2 separate regions of the Homo sapiens genome follow, and region 2 is linked to region 1. The links come from fine-mapping of genetic effects on gene expression. Tissue or cell type: whole blood. Region 1 holds a variant in brackets; the other region holds the start of a gene. All regions are shown on one strand. Distances are between the middles of the regions.

What was found. PIP is the estimated chance that this variant, and not a neighbour inherited with it, causes the effect.
Region 2: it holds the start of KLF4, and the variant in region 1 is fine-mapped to the expression of KLF4 in whole blood (TOPMed, PIP 0.94).

What each region holds. Positions count from the first base shown.
Region 1 is chr9:107,509,848-107,512,605 of GRCh38, forward strand. All of the region lies in intron 1 of LOC105376206 (a long non-coding RNA gene), which reads left to right. Among named protein-coding and RNA genes, the nearest start is that of KLF4, 21 kb to the left of the region's middle. The variant A/G (reference allele first, on the strand shown) is at 1,454.
Region 2 is chr9:107,488,361-107,491,118 of GRCh38, forward strand. KLF4 (KLF transcription factor 4) reads right to left here and starts at 1,409. Exons shown (of 5, transcript NM_004235.6): 1 at 808-1,409; 2 at 570-690. The coding sequence starts at 812. RefSeq lists silencers at 221-270, 922-1,121, 1,481-1,690.

The DNA.
Region 1 (2,758 bases):
GATCTCTGAGTGCTGATAAATGATTAAGACAAGCATTTGTACCCTTGTATTTCTAAATCTAATATGGTCTCCATGATTTTTTTAAAATCATGTAACGCCCCCAGCTAGGAACTCAGGGCACAGAGATAAACAAGACATTGCCTAGGAGACACACCCTGAAAGAAACTGTAATACAAGGTGCCAAGGTGATACTAGCAAGAGGGGTGTGCAAGGACGCCTAGGAGCCCAGAGGGCACAGGGGATTGGTTCTGCTTGGGGTGCGCCTGGCAGATAGGGAAGAGGAGGGGTGTCCAGGCAAAAAATTCAGCACAAATAAGCCACGGAGATGGGAGAGTATAGGGTATGCAGGTGGACCAGGATAAAATCCAGGGGGGGCCAGCATAGAGTGTGTAGGTAGAATAAGTAAATCTTTTGAAAAGACATTTGGAAACAGAAATGGAGGGGCCCAGGGTCACAACTTCTCTTAAATCAAATAGTTGCTCAAGACCCACATGTTGGCTGGGCGCGGTGGCTCACGCCTGTAATCCCAGCACTTTGGGAGGCCGAGGCGGGTGGATCACGAAGTCAGGAGATCGAGACCATCCTGGCTAGCACGGTGAAACCCCGTCTCTACTAAAAATACAAAAAATTAGCCGGGCACGGTGGCGGGCGCCTGTAGTCCCAGCTACTCTGGAGACTGAGGCAGGAGAATGGCGTGAACCCGGGAGGCGGAGCTTGCAGTGAGCGGAGATCCCGCCACTGTACTCCAGCCTGGGCGACAGAGCGAGACTCCGTCTCAAAAAAAAAAAAAAAAGACCCACATGTTAAAGCTGTCTTTTCCACCACTTCCGTGATCCTAGAACTATGTTCAGTTTTTTGGCACAGGTGTGTTGATTAGTCATATTATGATAATATTTTTCTTTAAATCCACATATTTAAAAAATATTTTGAAACTTTAAAGCATATTTAATAATAATATGTGTAATATTGCAGTTTGGATATGCTAGCTCAATGTTTTGTAAAGCATAAATAATAAATGCATAACAATTAAAATAATAAATATTTCCCTGTGTACCACATCAAATCACCTTGAGTCCCATCAGTGGTATTTGTATTCCTTGATCAAAAAAAAATTATACCGGGAATGGTGGTTCACACCTGTAATCTCAGCATTTTGGGAGAGCAAGGCAGGAGAATCACTTGGGACCACATGTTCAAGACCAACATAGCGAGACCCCATCTCAAAAAAGAAAAAAAAATTCTACGACAACTCTAGGACAATATAGATGGTAAAAAACAAAAATTCATTATTTTTTTCCATCACTTATGTATTATATTTAGTGATTGAGCAAAATCTTTTCAATCTAAACAGCTGGTTTGTATAACTAGCAGATAAAGACCATTGTATCTTTCTGCCTTTGGGCTGAGACTCTCTTTTCATCTTATTTTGTCCAATTTCTTTAGTGCTGAAAAA[A/G]ATGCATTGTCCATACTAATGACAACCCACTGTGTACCTCCTCCCATGCTCTCCAGCGGTGCAGCTTGTGGTGGTCAGTTGCCTGTTTTTCCTCGCTGTGAACGCTTTTAATTAAAAGGAAGGTAATTTGCAATATTAAGCATGTCTTCTCTGAATTAATCCTCGAAACAACTCTAAAACAGTAGTAGATAAAGCCCTATTTTACAGATAAAGAAAGGGGGCTCAGATAGATCCAAGTGACTGCCCCTCTTAGTGCTGTGTGACCAGCCAGAGATGGGTTTGAATTTAGAATTATTTGATTTGAAGCCTGGGACTCTCTTTGGCTTCTAATGGAGTGCATTCACTTGGGTGGACTTTTTTCCCCATCCATTTAACAGATATTTTCAGAATGCCAGTTATGTAGAAGGTACTCTGCTGTATGATGGGAGATCCAGAGATAAGTATAAATGGTATAAGCTGTACTATCAAGATGCTTATAGCTGCCAGGCACAGTGGCTCATGCCTGTAATCCTACTATTTTGGGAAACTGAGGCAGGCACATCACTTGAGGTCAGGAGTTTGAGACCAGCCTGTCCAACATGGTGAAACTTTGTCTCTACTAAAAATACAAATATTAGCCGGGTGTGGTGGTGTGCACCTGTAATATCAGCTACTCAGGAGGCTAAGGCAGGAGAATCGCTTGAACCTGGGAGGCAGAGGTTGCAGTGAGCCGAGATCGCGCCACTCACTCCAGCCTGGGCAATAGAGTGAGACTCCATCTCAAAAATAAAATAAAATAAATAAATAAATATACAAAAATTAGCTGGACATGGTCGCATGCACCTGTAGTTCCAGCTACTAAGGGGATTGAGAGAGGAGGATCACCCGAGCCTTGGGAGATCGAGACTGCAGTGAGCTGTGATCACACCACTGCACTCCAACCTGGGTGACAGAGTGAGATATTGTCTCAAAAATAAATAAATAAAAGGCCAGGGGTGCTGGCACATGCCTGTTATCCCAGCACTTTGGGAGGCTGAGGTGGGCGGAACACCTGAGGTCAGGAGTTTGAGACTAGTCTGACCAACACAGTGAAACCCCGTCTCTCTGAAATACAAAAAATTAGCTGGGCGTGGTGGTGCATGCCTGTAATCTCAGCTACTTAGGAGGCTGAGGCAGGAGAATCACTTGAACCAGGGAAGTGGAGAGGTTGCAGTGAGCTGAGACCTCAACATTGTACTTCAGCCTGTGCAACAAAAGTGAAACTCCTCTCAAAAAAAAAAAAAAAAGAAGAAGAAAGAAAAGAAAAAGAAAAAAGGAAAAAAGGCT
Region 2 (2,758 bases), 21 kb before region 1:
CCCAGACATGGGGACTGGTCAGGCAGGAAGCACCCGGGAACCCAGGGCGCCAGCGCTGCAATCTCGGCCCACTCCCGGGTCGAAGAAGAGGTGATGCGTCTGTATTGCGGGTGTTATGTCCTGTCTGCCCAATTGCGTGTGAGCGAGCGCCGCGGCTGGTCCCTCCCCCTCCAGGTCCCGTGGACGTCCCCGGAATTGGCACACCGAGGCTCTCTCGGTGCGCTCTCGCCACGGGGCCGCCTACGCGCTAAACTCACTCTGGCCCAGCCAGTGTCTGGGGACGCGGCCACCTCCCGCCCGGTGGCCCGAGAGCGCCCGCCCTACCGACAGCGCGCCCGGGGACTGGTGAAGACCCGGCTTGCGCCCCAGGCGGCTCCGCAGTGCTCGCACCACGGGCATACACAGCTGAGCCAAGGACACGGAAGCTATCCCGGGAAGGTTGCGGAGTCCGCGCGGTGGCCGCTCCTTACCCTCGTTCAGTGGCTCTTGGTGACCCCAAGGCTCCGCCCGCCCCCACCACACCCACGAAAACCCACCGGGCGTTCCCGGCGGCCCGGAGCGATACTCACGTTATTCGGGGCACCTGCTTGACGCAGTGTCTTCTCCCTTCCCGCCGGGCCAGACGCGAACGTGGAGAAAGATGGGAGCAGCGCGTCGCTGACAGCCATGTCAGACTCGCCAGGTGGCTGCCTGCGAGCAAGGCAGGGAGCGGAGACAGGAGAGTCAGGGGCGGCTTTCGGCCGTCGTTCCGGCGCGTCCCACCGGTCCTCACCCCTCCCTGCTCCCAGCGCCGCGCGCCTCACCTACCTCATTAATGTGGGGGCCCAGAAGGTCCTCGGCAGCCCGAAGCAGCTGGGGCACCTGAACCCCAAAGTCAACGAAGAGAAGAAACGAAGCCAAAACCCAAAACCCCAAATTGGCCGAGATCCTTCTTCTTTGGATTAAATATAACTTGGAAGCGTCTTTTTTAAAAAGTTCCTTTGTATACAAAAGTTCTTAGAAAAGTTGTAAACGCAAAAATAGACAATCAGCAAGGCGAGTAAGTAGGTCCGGTGGCCGGGCTGCGCTCTCTTCCACTCAGCAGCGTCCCCCACCACTGTCGCGGTCGCCTCGAGTGCTGCCGTGGGCGCAGGGGCTGTGGCCGGGGCGGTGGGCGGGCGGTGCCGCCAGGTGAGACTGGCTGCCGTGGCGCGGAGCTGCGAACTGGTCGGCGGCGCAAGGCGCGGACTCCGGTGAGTTGTGTGGAGCGCGCGCGGCCATGGGCGCGGGCCACGGGCGGGTGGGAGGGTGGGGGGCCAGAGGGGCGGGGGAGGGTCACTCGGCGGCTCCCGGTGCCGCCGCCGCCCGCCACCGCCTCTGCTCCCCGCGCGCCCGCAGACACGTTCGTTCTCTCTGGTCGGGAAACTGCCGGCCGCCGGCGCGCGTTCCTTACTTATAACTTCCTTCGCTACAGCCTTTTCCTCCGCCTTCTCCCATGCCCCGCCCCTCCCTTTCTTCTCTCCGCCCCCCCCGAGGCTCCCTTCCATCGTTGCTATGGCAGCTAAATCAACAAACTCGGCGCACGTGGGGGCGGGGGAGGGGAAGGAGGGGCGCGGGCGGGGCTGGGCCGGGCCGTGACGCCAGCCAGGCAGCTGGCGGGCTGGAGCCGAGCTGACGCCGGCGGCAGTGGTGTCGGCGGCGGCGGCGGCGTCCGCCCCAGCGCGGGGCGCGAGGAACCGGGCGCAGGTTCGGTCGCTGCGCGACCAGGGCCGTACTCACCGCCATTGTCGGCTCCCTGGGTTCGAAGCCCGCGAAGACTGGTGGGGTCAGCGGGCGGCACGGTCACGCGTCCGCACCCCTGCTAGCATACGCGCTTGCCGCGCTGTCTGCGCGCTGGAGAAGAGCGCGATTATCCGCGTGACTCATCCAGCCCTCCATCTCCCCCTCCCTCTCTGCGCTCGCAGGAGTCCGCTCTCGTCGCTCAGCGCCAGTGCCGGTGGCGGTGCCGGCGCTCGGCCTGACCTCGCACGGTTCCTCGCGGGCCCTTCTGCTGAGGGGTGGGGGGCGCTAGGGGTGTGGAGAGGAGGCAGTGCCCAGCACTGTGCAGCGTGAACTGGGAGCCTCAAGAGAAGGCCAGAGGAGTGTTCCGCCGGGAACAGGCGGAAAGAGGCACGAATGGGGAGTTATGGTTTTGATACTTTAAATAGCGAGAAAGGGAGTGAAAGGGCTCAAGATTTACTCAGAGGCATAAGGGAGAGAAGAGGGACTGTGAGGCGCGGAGACAGTTTTCAACCAGCCATCTCGAAGCCCTTTCCTTTTTTTTTCTTTCTTTTTTTTTTTTTTGTGAGACAGAGTCTCGCTGTGTCGCCCAAGCTGGAATGCAGTGGCACGATCTCAGCTCAGTGCAACCTCCGCCTCCTGCGTCCAAGCGATTCTCCTGCGTCAGCCTCCCGAGTAGCGGGGATTACAGGCGTGCGCCACGACGCCGGCTAATTTTTGTATTTTTCGTGGAGACGGGGTTTCACCATGTTGGCCAGGCAGGTCTCGAACACCTGACCTCAAGTGATCAGCCTGCCTCGGCCTCCCGAAGTGCTGGGATTACAGGCGTGAGCCACTGCCTGTAATATTTGATGACTAAATTGCACTGTAGAATAATAATAATAATAGAAGACACCCATTAAAGAAGAATTAAACACTCACTGATGACTTTTCAAGCCACGCACTCTCCTTTCCACTTTATGGATGAGAAATTGAGTCATAAAGAGGTGAAATGGCCAGT